2 separate regions of the Homo sapiens genome follow, and region 1 is linked to region 2. A link means that fine-mapping ties the variant in region 2 to the expression of a gene that starts in the linked region. Tissue or cell type: whole blood. Region 2 holds a variant in brackets; the other region holds the start of a gene. All regions are shown on one strand. Distances are between the middles of the regions.

The links. PIP is the estimated chance that this variant, and not a neighbour inherited with it, causes the effect.
Region 1: INPPL1 starts here. The variant in region 2 is fine-mapped to the expression of INPPL1 in whole blood (TOPMed, PIP 0.94).

The regions. Positions count from the first base shown.
Region 1 is chr11:72,220,789-72,228,788 of GRCh38, forward strand. INPPL1 (inositol polyphosphate phosphatase like 1) reads left to right here and starts at 3,979. Exons shown (of 28, transcript NM_001567.4): 1 at 3,979-4,378; 2 at 7,402-7,465; 3 at 7,560-7,710; 4 at 7,939-8,000. The coding sequence starts at 4,197. It overlaps FOLR2 (folate receptor beta), which reads left to right. Exons shown (of 5, transcript NM_000803.5): 3 at 82-270; 4 at 388-523; 5 at 682-1,162. The coding sequence ends at 974. RefSeq lists silencers at 2,465-2,694, 2,935-3,334, 3,885-4,244, 4,255-4,464 and an enhancer at 5,870-6,229.
Region 2 is chr11:72,172,274-72,180,531 of GRCh38, forward strand. All of the region lies in intron 2 of FOLR1-AS1 (FOLR1 antisense RNA 1), which reads right to left. It also overlaps the pseudogene FOLR3P1. Among named protein-coding and RNA genes, the nearest start is that of FOLR1, 16 kb to the right of the region's middle. The variant C/T (reference allele first, on the strand shown) is at 3,293.

The sequences.
Region 1 (8,000 bases), 48 kb after region 2:
GAACCAAATGGGGGAGAGACACGAGGTGGCAGGAGGAGGAGGGTATGGGGAGGCACTTAGTCCTGTGTCTTCCCCACCCAGTGCAGTCCCTGGAAGAAGAATGCCTGCTGCACAGCCAGCACCAGCCAGGAGCTGCACAAGGACACCTCCCGCCTGTACAACTTTAACTGGGACCACTGCGGCAAGATGGAGCCCGCCTGCAAGCGCCACTTCATCCAGGACACCTGTCTCTATGAGTGCTCACCCAACCTGGGGCCCTGGATCCAGCAGGTAGGGTGTCTCCCCCCCACCCACCCCAGCAGACTGCCATCCCCCTCAGTCACTTCAAGGCGATGGCTGCCAGCATCCCTGGCTGAGAGGAGCCCTGCCTCCCCACCTCCCACCCAGGTGAATCAGAGCTGGCGCAAAGAACGCTTCCTGGATGTGCCCTTATGCAAAGAGGACTGTCAGCGCTGGTGGGAGGATTGTCACACCTCCCACACGTGCAAGAGCAACTGGCACAGAGGATGGGACTGGACCTCAGGTGAGGGTGATTGAGTTGGGGTTAGGAAAAAGGAGATTGAGGTAGGGTTTGGAAAATCTTCAAGGATTTGGGGTGGGGTGAAGATTTCTGGGGGTGGCCAGAAATGAGCTTTGGGCCCAGGGGCTGAAAGTCTGTGTCCACCATGCCTCTCCCTGCAGGAGTTAACAAGTGCCCAGCTGGGGCTCTCTGCCGCACCTTTGAGTCCTACTTCCCCACTCCAGCTGCCCTTTGTGAAGGCCTCTGGAGTCACTCATACAAGGTCAGCAACTACAGCCGAGGGAGCGGCCGCTGCATCCAGATGTGGTTTGATTCAGCCCAGGGCAACCCCAACGAGGAAGTGGCGAGGTTCTATGCTGCAGCCATGCATGTGAATGCTGGTGAGATGCTTCATGGGACTGGGGGTCTCCTGCTCAGTCTGGCCCTGATGCTGCAACTCTGGCTCCTTGGCTGAGTTCAGTCCTCCCAGACTACCTGCCCTCAGCTTGGATAACCAGGCTGGGCTCAGCTCAGCTCCCACAAATGACAGCCCCTTAAGCATGCTTCTATTAGTCACCTAACCCTCTGTCACCCAGTCTGTTGCTGCTCCATGGTGGGGCCAAGAGTCACTTCTAATAAACAGACTGTTTTCTAATAATTCCATGTCTGTGGAATTGTTTTGGTTGTGAGTTTGTGGGTGGGTGGGAGACAGATTCTACGGCTTCTGGATTCCTTCAAATTAGAGCAACTAGACCTGTGTTTGAATCCCAGCTCTGCTACTTTGTGAAAATGAAACAGTTGCTTCACTGCTCTAAACCTTTGTTTCCTTCTGGATAAAAAGAGGATAATAGTCCTGCCCTCAGGCTTGTGAAATATACAGGAGCTGTTGCCTAGAAAGCCCGTGAGCCCAGTGTCTGCACATTAATAGTCTTCAGGGATCCTGTTGTTCCTGTTGCCCCAAGTGGGAGCCAGGTCCTGAGCTTATTTGTCTTGGTCTCCAAACAGCCTCCTGGTCCTCCAGCCCTTGTGCCTGGCTCTGTGCTCGGCTCTGTAACAGGAAAGCTGGGAATGGGAGTCCAGGAAAGGATTCAGATTGCCAGTGGGATGAAAAAAATTCACAGTGGGATGAAAAAAACGTGATGCACATTGAAGGAGCAGAGTTGGGGCCTGGGACTCTCAGAGGAAAAACAGAGCCAATTGGAGAGGGCAGTGTAGGGGGTTTCTGGAGTGGAATACTCAAGAGCCTGGAACTGGTTCAGCGCTTTGGTGTCCTGGAGGTGTGGCTGGAAGAGTTAGAAACCCTTAAGGGCTTCCCGGGGTCAGGAGCCTCTGGCACCTTTGTCTCCTCCTGGGATTGGCAGATATGCCTATCTTGAGGGGGTTGCTCTGTCTTTGCAAAGCCCTCGGGAGCTGGGCCTAAGTTATCTCTGGGTCTCCCAACACCCCTTTCCCTTTGGATAAGTCTTTGTTTGCACACTCCTACTACAACTGTCCCCAGAGAGGCCCAGGTAAGTCTCTGAGAACACCCTGCAGGTAGGTGGCCCAGCTAGGACTAGAACCCAGGTGTGCAGACTCCCAGTCCAGGTCTCTCCCCCACTACCAAGGATTCCCCTCACATCAGGCTCATCTTTTCTTATACTAAAAGGTGGCTGATGAGAACGGTGGCACAGATTGTAGGATGAGTTATTGGGTTCTGGAGGCACTGTTGGGTGGGTGGGTGGATCTCTTAGTTATTATATTTATCTAGTGTGGAAGGCCCCACAGAGCCCCTTCCACGTCCCAGGCTCTGCTCCAGCTGGGTTAAGTCAATGCATATTTGAAATAGAGGAAGGAGCTCGAGGGACTGACCCGGGCTCCGTCAACAGGTTCAACGTAGCAAAGTGAAAGTTCTCTCCCAGGTTAAAGGGATTCTCCCACGGCGGCCCAGGAGATGGTGGCGGCGGGCGCCCGGCTGGAGGCCTGCGCCTTTAAGGAGCCAGGGGGCGGAGGGGCGGGGCAGGAAGACGACTCCCCGGAGACGCCGCCACCGGCTAGGTCTTTTTTTGGGAGGGGGCGGGCCAGACCCTTTTATGGGCTCCGCCCCCTTTGCGGCTGCCGCGTCCCCCTTCCGCCCTCGGCTGGAGGGGAGGAAGCTAGGGGGGCGTTGCAGCGGACCCCGTCTGGGAGCTCCCCGCTGGGCGTCCGGCCCGCGGAGGCGCGAGTTTGCTGACTCGGAGGGAGCCGCTGGGGCGGGGGCGAGTGCTAATAATACCCGTTCGTTCCGCAGCCGCGCTTTACAGTTTACACAGCTGTCACCTTCGTTTCTCCTTAATTAATAATAAAAATAGCCGCCGTTCGGGAGCGCGGGCTGGGCGCCAGGCCCGGTGCCGAGCGCGGTACGAGCTCGGCCCCCAGAGCCGGCCCTCGCCACAGGATCCCCATTTTCCAGAGCGGGAAGCCGACGCTCAACCCCGCGCCGCGACTTGCCCGAGGTCACCCAGTGGGCCAGCGGCTCCGGGACCGAGGCGCGGGGCGGGGTGAGGCGAGGCGCGGTGCTGCCCCCGGCTCCCCGGGGCGGCGCGGGGCGGGGCGGGCGGCGCGGAGGGCGGGGGCGCGCGCGGATGGCCATCTTAAGTGGCCGCCTGGAGCCCAGGGCCGCTGTCCGGGGAAGGGGGCGCCGGAGCAGCCCGGGAGGTGGGGGTCTGCGTGCGGCGGCCGGGATCCCGGGAGGGAACTTTCTACTAGACGGGCCAGGGATCCTCCTGGCTTCGGACTGCTGAACCCCCTCAAGGCCCGGCCTGCGGGTGTGGGGGGTGGTGCTGGGGAACTTGGCCGAGAGGGGGAAGGGCTCTGCGGGGCTGGGAGGGGCTGCGTGAGAGGCTCGAGAACGTCGCACCTCGTCTGGGCCCCCCGCCAGAGTAAGAATCTTCAGAAGCCTGGTTAGCCAGGGAATCTCCCCGCAGGCTTTGCCGGGGGACGGTTCCCGTGGAGTTGGGGGTTCAGATCTAAGAGGGGGCTGCATTTCGCAGGAGTTGGGGGCCCCGCCCGCTTGGGTGGAGGGAAGAGGATGGGTAGGGGGTGGTCCTGGATCCTTCGCAGGTTTGGGGAACTCGATGCAGCCAAGCTGTAAGGGGGACGAGAGGAAGAGCCATGGAGTGGAATCAGACCTTTATGGGGCTTAGGGGTCATATCATTGGGAGAACTGAGAAGCGCTGAATTCTCCAGGGGGTGCCTGGATCCCGAAGTGTCGGGGCCAGGATGGGGGGACTCGGATTTCGATGGGGATTTGGGGACTGGATCTCCTCGGGTGAATGATGGGGGCAGGATCATTGTGGGGTCTGGGAGGTCCCGGGCCCTTCGGGAAGGTGGGGGCACCGTCCCCGCAGGAGGAGCTGGGGGCAGGGGCGGCCCGGGCTGCGGGCCGAGCGGAGGGGGAGGGGGCGGCAGCCGGCCCTGCGCTCCGCTCCTGCCCCTCCCCCGCCGCCTCTGAACAAACTTTTCTTTCTCTTCAAGTTGAGGCCGGCGCTGCAGGCAGCGGCGGCTGCGCGGTGAACGAGGCGGCCTGCGCGGCGGAGTGCTGAGTCCCGATCCCCGGCTCTGTCCGGCCCACGGATCCTCAAGCCCGGGCCCCGGGCCCGGCCCCAGCCTCAGCCCTGAGCGTCTCGGGGCGGATGGCGCGGGGCGGCGGGGGCGGGCGGTGCTGAGCCCTGCGCGGGCCATGGCCTCGGCCTGCGGGGCGCCGGGCCCGGGGGGCGCCCTGGGCAGCCAGGCCCCCTCCTGGTACCACCGCGACCTGAGCCGGGCGGCCGCGGAGGAGCTGCTGGCCCGGGCGGGCCGCGATGGCAGCTTCCTGGTCCGAGACAGCGAGAGCGTGGCGGGGGCCTTCGCGCTCTGCGTCCTGTGAGTGGGGCGGGGGCTCCTTGCGGGCTGGCGTGGACCGGGAGCGCGGGCACGGCCGGGTGTGGAAAGGGCCCGGGTGAGGGTTTCTGGGGCGGTGGGACGCCAGACCCGCCTCCACCCCCCAGAGTGGGAGCCTTGGCTTTCTCCTGGGTCTGAGGAGGGACGCAGGGGCACTTCCTGCTGTGTGTCTGGGGGCACTTTCAGGAGCCTTGAGGGTAGAGAATATGGGGTTCTGTGGCCCAGTGTGACTGTGATGACGAAAAATTCGGGCATTCCCCGGCAGACCCCTTCAGGCATCCTCCAGGTAGAAGGGAGCAGGGGAGAGGATGTGCATTCCACGTTGTGTGCAGTCCCGTTTGGATAGGGACTGAGTGGTGAGCAGGAGAGGGAGTCGGGGCAGAGGGACTGACGGGGTGTGTGGGGATGCCTGGCAGCTTCCTTAGGGCCCCTTTCGGTGCTTTGGGGTTCTGCCTGGCCGTGTATGGGTGGTGGGGGCGGTGATGGGTGGTGTAGAGAGGAAGGCTTGGGGAAGCAGAGGCTGAGGCTGTATGGGACCTTGCCATTATTTCTGAACCAATGAGTGAGTGTTTGAGCCCTGGCTCTGGGCTTGAGCCCTGGTTACCTGGCTGCCCTAGCCCTGAGCTATGAGTGCTGAGTGAGAGCAGAGCCAGACTTGGTGCTTCTCTGAGTGGGCCAGGTCCTGTGGCTGTGCCTTTCAGCCCAGTGTGGTTGGTAGTGGTGCTGGGGTGAGTTAGCACTCTTGGTTTTGCAGCCTTCTAGCGGCTTTGTACCTCCTGCCCTGCAGTCTGACATTGAGTTGGCTTCTGTGGGCCCAGTGAGTGGGAATCTGTGGGGGCTGCTTTATTTAGATCAGTTATTTAGATCTTTATTTAGATCTTTCTTAGCTCTGTGAACCCCCTCCCAAACTCCTGTCCCACTGTACCTTCCTTACCCCTTTGTTCTCCTGACATCTTTGGTCGGGGCGCACATTAGCCTAGACCAGGGGAGACCTTTTTTTTTTTTTTTTTTTTTGAGAAAGAGTCTCGCTCTGTTGCCCAGGCTGGAGTGCAGTAGTGCAATCTCGGCTCACTGCAACCTCCGCCTCCTGGATTCAAGTGATTCTTCTGCCTCTGCCTCGCCAGTAGCTGGGATTACAGGCGCTCGCCACCAAGCCCAGCTAATTTTTGTATTTTTAGTAGAGATGGGGTTTCACCATATTGGCCAGGCTGGTCTTGAACTCCTGACCTCAAGTGATCCACCTGCCCCGGCCTCTCAAAGTGCTAGGATTACAGGTGGAGCCACCTCGCCCAGCTGGGGAGACATTTTTAATTGTCACAACTGGGATGGTGCTATTGACATCTAGTGGGTAGAAGCCGGGGATACTGCTAAACATTCTACAGTGCACAAGAGAGTCCCCCACAACAAAGAACTGTGCAATCCAAAATGTCAGTGGTATGGAGGTTGAAAAACTCTAGCCTAGGCAATTGACCCAACAAGGAAGGGGCCCTATAAGTCTTAGCTTAGGCCTCAAGTCTGAGGCCCAGTAGGGGGAGACTAAGGAGGGACAGACTAGGCAGATGAATATCCCCAAGTCCTGCTTCCCAGCCCCCTCTGAGGCATACCCCCTAATTAGGCTGGGGAGGGAGGCAGGTGCTGGGTCAGCTGTTGAGTGGGAGGGGGACAGCTGGGGCCTGTGTCTGGGTGAGGAACATTATTGTCCCAGGAGGGGGAGAATCCTGGCCTCATTGCCAAGGGAGGCTGTGAATGGGGTGAGGGGTCTGTCTGTGAGTGGGGGCTTCAGGTTTGCCAGCTGACTCTGGCTCTTCCCCGCATCTCAAGAGCCTGGGGGTAAGGATCAGACGTGGGCGATCAGACGTGGGCAATATCTTAGATTTGCCAAATACACACATACTTGCTTACCTGTATACATTCCGGGTGTTCATGGATAACATGCAAGACACGCCCCTGCCCCAGCAGGCACAGGCAATCTGACCAGCAAGCTAGGATACTGGCCCTGGCTTCTGCCATGGTTTAAAATCCCAACTCCACCTTTTACTTACTCTGTGGCCTTAGGAAAATCACTTTTATTCTTTGAGCCTGTTTCCTCAGCTGGAGAATGGGGATAATAATATCTGTTTAGAAGTGTGAGAATTAAGTAAGATTTATAGGACACTGGGTACCCAGCGTGTCACAGATAGGATTCAGTTAATGGTATGCTATTGTAATAAACACAGATAGTGTTTGTAATAGTCTACAAAGGAACACCTGGTGACAGACACTCACCCAGCATAAGCAGCCAGGAGAGTCACCTAGGGTGACTCCTGGGTGACTCCTTGGGGAAGCATGCCCTGAGGTGCGGAGGCAGAGGATCTTCCATCCCCCGCTGATTGTGCACCTGGCTCAGCTGCCACCTGCTCAACTGCGGCTCCTGTCTGTCAGCACCCCTCTTGCCCCTCCTTGGCTTGGGGCTCCTAGAGGCCCAGGTCTCCCATGGGGGCCCTCTTTGGTGGGAAGGCCTAGGGTGATGCCCCCACACTCCTCGGCACAAGTGCCCTAGACATACCCGACTCCAGCAGAGCCAGAGAGCAGCATAAACACAGGAGGCATACACACGTGTTAGCACGTTGCCCGTGTGTGCAAATGGGCTAACCAGGCTTCTGAAGACTCTTACTCTGGCGGGGAGCCCAGACTGGTACCACAGCCCAGAGGGGCTGTTTAGACAGCTGTGGAGGCCACAAAAGAGCTCCCTGTTGCTTCTCAGGCCCTGCCCTGTGGTGGGTGTGGAGTCTGTGTAGGTCTGGTGGGGAGACGGGGGTGTTCTGGTCATTCCTGCCCAATAGGCAACACCAGGAGGGTGGAAGTGGACCGGCCACATCATTAACCCTGTGCAGCCTGGGCAGGTGGTTTTAGGGAAACCAAGCTGAGGGGGTTGGGGTGCTGAGCTTGCTGGCAGGAGGAAGGGGTGCTTTGGGTCTTAGACCCCAGCCTGGGGGTGACAGATTCTGGCCCTGCCTTGGCATCAGGTATCAGAAGCATGTGCACACGTATCGCATTCTGCCTGATGGAGAAGATTTCTTGGCTGTGCAGGTAGGAGCTTGGGCCCCTGACCCCTGACCTTGATCCAGCCTAGGGCTTGGGGACCTGCTGGCTGACCCTTCCTCCCACCCTTGCTGGCCCACAGACCTCGCAGGGTGTGCCTGTGCGCCGCTTCCAGACCCTGGGTGAGCTCATCGGCCTGTACGCCCAGCCCAACCAGGGCCTTGTGTGCGCCCTGCTTCTTCCTGTAGAGGGTGAGCGAGAGCCGGACCCACCGGATGACCGGGATGCCTCAGGTACTTCCCAGTGTGCAGGTCCCCTCCCTGCCCCTGTCCCTTGGCTCTACCTGCCTCTTCCCATCCCCCCTTCTCAACCCCACCTCTCCTGTAACCCCCTTTCCCTTGGCCATGATGCCGGGGCCCTTTAACCCTCTTTCCATGGAAGTCACTTTACAGCTGCATCGTGCCTCCTACTCCACTGAGTGTGGGAGGCCCAAACGGCTGCCCACTGACCCCTGCCCACAGATGGGGAGGATGAGAAGCCCCCGCTGCCCCCGCGCTCTGGCTCCACCAGCATTTCTGCCCCC
Region 2 (8,258 bases):
GGGCTCCCTCTCACCTCTACACGCAGCGCATTTCTTGGCTCAGCTGCCCTGTAGGGGATGCAGGGTGGGGACAGCAGAGATCTGGGCCTGGGAGGGAGACAGTACACAATCACATGGCTGTTGCCCCTCCCTCAGGCCTTGTCTACCTCTGACTGTGGCTCTCTGGCAGGAATAGATGGACATGGCCTGGCAGATGATGCAGCTGCTCCTTCTGGCTTTGGTGACTGCTGCGGGGAGTGCCCAGCCCAGGAGTGCGCGGGCCAGGACAGACCTGCTCAATGTCTGCATGAACGCCAAGTACCACAAGACACAGCCCAGCCCCGAGGACGAGCTGTATGGCCAGGTGAGGATAAAGTCGGGTCTGGGGCAGGGGAGAGAGCTGCCTTTGACAGAGAAAAGTTAGCAGGGTGAAGTCAGCTGTGGAAGGTGATGAAGGCAGAGGATGACTGCTGTGATCCTGGAGGGCCTCCCCTGGGAGGACACCAAATCTACAATAATAAAGGAACCACATACCTAACACCCACTATGAGCCTATGAGCCTTGTGCTTTCACTCATGCCATGTTAGTGAATATGCCCAAAGGGCAGGGTGGGTGCGTGGTAGTCTCTACTTACGCAAATGAGGAAATAGGCCCAGAGAGGGCGCAGGTGCAAGTGGGAAATGAGGAGAGGGACTGTCCATACCTTTCCCAGCCTTAATTGTGTGCCAGCCCACAGAGCTCAATGGCACAGTAGAAGAGGAGCTGGGCCCATCATGGTCATGGTGCAGCCTACATGTACAAACAGTCCAGGTTTCCACCCCCATTAGGTACTGAAGAGACAACGACCAATCCAATATGCTGGGGAGACTTCCCAGGCAAGAGACCATTGGCCTTGACCTGGGAAGATGAGTAAGAGTTTTCTAGGAGGAAAAAGCGGGAAAGGGCAGCCTGGTAGAGGACAGCATGCACACAGGTCAGAGGGTGATGGCACGAGCAATGGCGGGTCCAGTGTGGCCAGAGCCAGCGGTGCCACTGCCCACAAGGAAGGGGAGGGGAGGCCAGGGCCCTCATGCCACAGGTAAGGCCACTGAGGCAGCTCGGGGAGTATGAGCTCCAATTTGAATTCCAAGCTCAGGAGAGTGCCTGTATTTCATTTCTCTGGTCTCCTGGCCTGCTCCCTAGAAGGGTTCACATTCCCAGAGGGTGAGGATGTGCCCAGGGAGAGACTGTGGCATGGACAGGCTCCGAGGGCTAAAGCAAAGAGAGGACAGCCTGGAAGCCCTGTGACATCTGAGTCATTCCCAACATTCCATTTGCTTATTTTAAAATCAGGGTAAAATTTAAAATAAATAAATAAAATAAGTTCTCCATTTTAGCCATTTTTAACTGTACAGGTCAGTGGCATTAAGTATGCTCATGTATGCCGGGTGCAGTGGCTCACGCCTGTAATCCCAGCACTTTGGGAGGCCGAGGTGGGCGGATCACCTGAGGTCAGGAGTTTGAGACCAGCCTGACCAACATGGAGAAACCCTGTCTCTACTAAAAATACAAAAAAAAAAAAAATTAGCCGGGCATGGTGGCCCATGCCTGTAATCCCAGCTACTCGGGAGGCTGAGACGGGAGAATTGCTTGAACCTGGGAGGCAGAGGTTGCAGTGAGCCGAGATCGCGCCATTGCACTCCAGCCTGGGCAACAAGAGCAAAACTCTGTCAAAAAAAAAAAAAAAGTATGCTCATGTGGTTGTGCAACCATCACCACCATCCATCTCCTGACCTCTTTCATTCTCCAAAACTGAAATGGAAACTTTGTGCCCACCACTTCATTTGCTTTTCAGAACCTTCTAAAGCACCTACTCTTTGCCAAGAAATGGTGCAGATGTAGACTTTGAGAGATACAGATGATTATCATTCTCAGGGCCATGAGCTATATGAGAGTGATGATATTTGTTGGGCCACTTCTATAGCCAGGGAGTACTTTTCATTATATTCAGTAACTCTTTCAGAGGCAGAAACCCCTGACCCTGACTGGCAAAACCCATGTCTGCCAAACCCCAAGACCCATGATGTGCAAGGGGTCTTGCAGGAAGACCAAGAGTTGGGACAGCCAAGGAAAAGCAAGTGTGAAGTTGTGCTGGCGGGGAAGCATGTTCTGTGTCGGCCGGCACTGGGCGTGGTGGCCCAGTGGGTAGGTCTGGCTCCACTCCCATGGATTTCCCTATTGTTTCTCCTGGTTGCTCAGACCTGTCACGCCTCTGCCATCACTTGACCCTAGGTGCAAGGGTTCAGCCCAGAAATGTTATGCAATTGACTCATGATTTCTCAGGTTTTCTGCATCCTGGCCTAGAGTGATTTCCAAAGAAAAACCTCCACCATTTCTGCTTGTCTTGCCTGCATTGTATTTACCTTTCTAGGATTGCCTTTTCCACATTTAGTCAAGCCCGGGTTCAGGCCCACGTTCAGGCTACAGCTCCTCTGTTCCCCCACCACTCTCAGGATCTATTTGGAGTCTCCTTGCCTGGACTTCCAGACCCTGGAAAAGCCACACCAGCCCCTTGACCTCCACCCTCCCCCACAACCTGGGCCAGGTTCCTCTCCTTCCTGTCCTGAGTTAAATCTTAACCCTACTATATACCACAGGTGTAGCTTACTGAAACGCTGTAAAAATGGGTTTAAGGATTCATACTGGGTTGTTAAGAGGATAAAGTGCAAAAGCCTCAGGGACTTTGCACCTATGGTTTTCTATGCCTGAGTGTTCTTTATCTTCCCTGTACACACAGCCCATCCACCCATTAAAACTATACCCTCCATGAGGCTAGAGATGTTACTTGCTTTGTTCACTGGGGTGTTCCTAGGACCTATCACAGTGCCTGATGTCTAATAAGCACTCAGTTAATATTGGCTGGATGCAAAATGAATAATATAAATAAGCTGAATAACATGAAATAACTTTTTCAACCATTAAGAGCTGTACAAACAATAATTACTGTCCCAGACAGTGGCTCCCCTCTATTATGCTCCGTTAAAAGCCAATATTGGCCAGGCGTGATGGCTCACATCTGTAATCTTAGCACTTTGGGAAGCTGAGATGAGAGGATTGCTTGAGCCCAGGAGTTTGAGACTAGCCTGGGAACCATAGTGAGACCCCATCTTTTTTTTTTTAATACTTTAAGTTCTAGGGTACATTTGCACAACGTGCAGGTTTGTTACATATGTATACATGTGCCATATTGGTGTGCTGCACCCATTAACTCGTCATTTACATTAGGTATTTCTCCTAATGTTATCCCCCCCTCCCCCAACCCCACGACAGGTCC[C/T]GGTGTGTGATGTTCCCCACTCTGTGTCCAAGTGTCCTCATTGTTCAATTCCCACCTATGAGTGAGAACATGTGGTGTTTGGTTTTCTGTCCTTGCGATAGTTTGCTCAGAATGATGGTTTCCAGCTTCATCCATGTCCCTACAAAGGACATGAACTCATCCTTTTTTATGGCTGCATATATTCCATAGTGTATATGTGCCACATTTTCTTCATCCAGTCTATCACTGATGGACATTTGGGTTGGTTCCAAGTCTTTGCTATTGTGAATAGCGCCGCAATAAACATACATGTGCATATGCCTTTATAGCAGCATGATTTATAATCCTTTGAGTATATACCCAGTAATGAGATGGCTGGGTCAAATGGTGTTTCTAGTTCTGGATCCTTGAGGAATCGCCCCACTGTCTTCCACAATGGTTGAACTAGTTTATAGTCCCACCAACAGTGTAAAAGTGTTCCTATTTCTCCACATCCTCTCCAGCACCTGTTTTTTGCTGACTTTTTAATGATTGCCATTCTGACTGGTGTGAGATGGTATCTCATTGAGGTTTTGATTTGTATTTCTCTGACGGCCAGTGATGATGAGCATTTTTTCATGTGTCTGTTGGCTGCATAAATGTCTTCTTTTGAGAAGTGTCTGTTCATTTCCTTTGCCCACTTTTTGATGGGGTTGTTTGATTTTTTTCTTGTAAATTTGTTTAAGTTCTTTGTAGATTCTGGATATTAGCCCTTTGTCAGATGGGTAGATTGCAAAAATTTTCTCCCATTCTGTAGGTTGCCTGTTCACTCTGATGGTAGTTTCTTTTGCTGTGCAGACGCTCTTTAGTTTAATTAGATCCCATTTGTCTCTACAAAAAGATTTTAAAAATAGCCAGGTGTGGTGGCATGGGCCTGAATCCCAGCTACTCAGAAGGCTGAGGTGGGAGGATTGCTTGAGCACAGGATGTAGAGGCTACAGTGAGCTATAATTGCACCACAGCACTCCAGCATGTGCAACAGAGAGAGACCTGTCTCAAATAAATAAATAAATAAGGGAAAAATGCACCAATATTGTAATTGCCTGTGTTCCCAGGTGGGGACTCCTCAAGGGCCCTCCCTAGGAAGTGTTCCTCTGGATGACCTACCTGGGGCAGAGGAGCCAGAATATGGGGGAGATGGCTGCGGTGGTGAGGGACTTAGTCCTGTGTCTTCCCCACCCAGTGCAGTCCCTAGAAGAAGAATGCCTGCTGCATGACCAACACCAGCCAGGAGCTGCACAAGGACACCTCCCGCCTGTACAACTTTAACTGGGATCACTGTGGTAAGATGGAGCCTGCCTGCAAGCGCCACTTTATCCAGGACACCGGTCTCTATGAGTGCTCACCCAACCTCGGGCCCTGGATCTGGCAGGTATGAGTGCCATTCCCACAAACATGAACCTCATAGCTGGGTGCATTGGCTTATGCCTGTAATCCCAGCACTTTGGGAGGCCAAGGCAGGTGGATTACCTGAGGTCAGGAGTTCGAGACCAGCCTGGCCAACATGATGAAACCCTGTCTCTACTAGAATACAAAAATTAGCCGGGCATGGCGGTGGGAGCCTGTAATCCCAGCTACTCAGGAGGCTGAGGCAGGAGAATCGCTTGAACCTGGGAGGTGGAGGTTGTAGTGAACCGAGATTGTGCCACTGCACTCCAGCCTGAGCAACAGTGCGAGACTTTGTCTCAAAAATAAAACAACAACAACAAAAACAACACAAAACATTAATCTCAGCAGAGGGCACAACCTGCCAGCCACTTGCAGAGAGGGCTTGGTCCAGGAATTTGGGTCTGAGGGTGGTGGACGCCCTGCCCCCTCCCACAGCTCTGGTCTCCTTCAAGGGTAAAGCGGCTGAGATACGTGGCTGACAGGAGTGTTCCGTCTCCTCCCCACTCAGGTCAACCAGAGCTGGCGCAAAGAGCGCATTCTGAACGTGCCCCTGTGCAAAGAGGACTGTGAGCGCTGGTGGGAGGACTGTCGCACCTCCTACACCTGCAAAAGCAACTGGCACAAAGGCTGGAATTGGACCTCAGGTGAGGGACGGAGGAGATGAGGTGAGGAGTGGGAGTGGGGCTTTGGGGTTGGGAGGGGTGTGGTCTGGCCCAGAAGCTAAGGGTCTTACATTCTCCTCCCTCAGGGATTAATGAGTGTCCGGCCTGGGCCCTCTGCCACACCTTTGAGCCCTACTTCCCCACTCCAGCTGCCCTTTGTGAAGGCCTCTGGAGCCATTCCTTCAAGGTCAGCAACTACAACTACAGCTGAGGGAGTGGCCGCTGCATCTAGATGTGGTTTGACTCAGCCCAGGGCAACCCCAGTGAGGAGGTGGCCAAGTTCTATGCTGCGGCCATGAATGCTGGGGCCCCGTCCCATGGGACTGGGGCCGTGGACATTGGTTCCTGATCCAAGAAGGGTCCCCTGGGGTTCTTCCGACAACCTATCCTAATAGACAAATCCACATGTGTCTTGTGTCTTGTAATCTGGGGACAAGTGGGTTGGAGTGACACATTGCTTCATCTTTCCTATTGATAGTCCCCGAATCAGGCTGGAACTGGCTTGACATTCACTGGGAAGTAGGCTGTGGAGGTTGAGCCAGAATCTAGGTATCTATCTATCCCTCAGCCTGGTTCTCCTGAGACCCTCCCGCTCACACAAAGCTCATTACCCCCACACTATACACGGACAAAAGCGCAGGTGGAAGGAAGATGGGCAGAAACAGGAGATGAGTTATTGGGCTTCAGGTGGGGAAGACAGTTTATTTCCTCTTCCCTCACTAGATGTGGGCTGGGAGGAGATACTGTTTGGAGAGGAGGGTCTCAATGATAAACACCTGCCTTGTTTTTATTTGTTTGAGACTGGGGTCTTGCTATGTTGCCCAGGCTAGTCTTGAACTCCTGGGCCCCAGCGATCTTCATTCCTTGGCCTCCCAATGTGCTGGGATTATTGCAGTAGGTCATTGTGCCTGACCTACTTTTTTTTTTTTTTTTTTTTTTTTTGAGACGGAGTCTTGCTCTGTCACCCAGGCTGGAGTGCAGTGGTGTGATCTCGGCTCACTGCAGCCTCTGCCTCCCATGTTCCAGCGATTCTCCTGCCTCAGCCTCCTGGGTAGCTGGGATTACAGGCACACACCACCACGCCTGGCTAAATTTTGTATTTTTAGTAGAGATGGGGTTTCACCATGTTGGCCAGGCTGGTCTCGAACTCCTGACCTCAGGTGATCCACCCACCTTGGCCTCCAAAAGTGCTGGGATTACAGGCATGAGCCACCGAGCCTGGCCTGACCTACTTTTTAATAAATGACAAGTAATGCTGCAATTAACAGTCTTGTACCAGCTGTTACAAGATTGTAACACTGAGCACCTTGAGCTCAGTGGCTCACGACTGCAATCCCAGCACTTTGGGAGGCCAAGGTGGGTGGATCACCTGAGGTCAGGAATGTCAGACCAGCCTAGCCAACATGGTGAAACCCCATCTCTACTAAAATATACAAAAATTAGCCAGGTGTGATGGCACATGCCTGTAATCCCAGCTACTCAGGAGGCTGAGGCAGGAGAATCGCTTGAACACAGGAGGCAGAGGTTGCAGTGAGCTGGGATCATACCACTGCACTCCGGCCTGGGCTACAAGAGTGAAACTCCGTCACAAAACAAACAAACAAAAAATCTTGTACCTAGTGGAATGTTATACTGAATTCCAGAAAGGGTTATTGGGTCAAGAGTATGTATAATTTTGATAGTTACAACTTTATAGAGATTTTATCAATGTGGCTCCTCCACCAGCAAAGCATGAGAGTGCCTGTTTCTCCGCTGGGTGTGTGAGAGCTCACACCTGTGATCCAGCACTTTGAGATTCTGAGGCAGGAGAATCTCTCGACCCCAGGAGCTCAAGATCAGCCTGGGCAACATGGTGAAACCCCATCTCTACAAAAAACTAAAAAAATCAGCTGGGCATGGTGGTGTGTGCCTATAGTCCCAACTACCAGGGAAGCTGAGGTGAGAGAATCACTTGAGCCCTGAGAGGTTGAGGCTACAATGAGCTGTGATTGTGCCACTGCACTCCAGCCTGTGCGACAGAGCGAGACCTTGTCTCAAAAAAAAAAAAAAAAAAACAGAGAGAGAGAGTGCCTGTTTCTCCACAACCTTGTCAACACAGTATGCCATCAAACTTTGGTTTTCTGCTCATCTTACAGGTGGGGAAAAGGGCAGCTCAGTCCAGTTTTCATCTGCCATTGTTCTGAGATCTTTCCATGTTGACCTATTGAGATGTTAAATTACTAGGTAATAATCCATTCTATGTGTACATCACACTGAATTCAGTCACATACTGATGGGCATTGGAAGGAATGGGGTTCTTTTATGATCTTGACATTGCTGAAAGCCACAGGCCAGTTATTTGGTAGAATACTGCTCCATTTGGGTTTGTTTCCTCATGATTCACTGAGGTTACACATTTTGGGCACGAATACCCTACACAGTTATTCCATGCATCGTAACAGGAGGCACGTGGTGAGGGGTTTGCCCATTCCTGGTGAGGTTAACTTTGATCTTTTGGTTGAGATCATGTCTCCCAGGTTTCTCCACTACACTTTCCCCTTTGTAAGTAATAAATATGTTGTAGGGAGAGACTGGGGACTATAGATACTCTATTCATCAGCACACTTCCACCTACATGTTCCACTGTCTGATGGACCTTTTTTAAAAAAGTAAAAACAAAACCGAAATGTGTCTTATTATGTTACAGCTCTTTCACCAATCTTTCAATGCTTTCCAGTGGTATCAACTGTAAAAACTAAACTTCTTCAAATTAGCACAGAAGACCATGCCCCTCCTTTGAGCCCTCAAGCCAAATCTTCCCCACACCACCCCATAAATGAGCTCCAGTCACACTTCTCATGTTGGGGGTCTTTGCTCCAGCAACTCCTCTGCGTGCCTGAAATGTTTTTCATTAATCC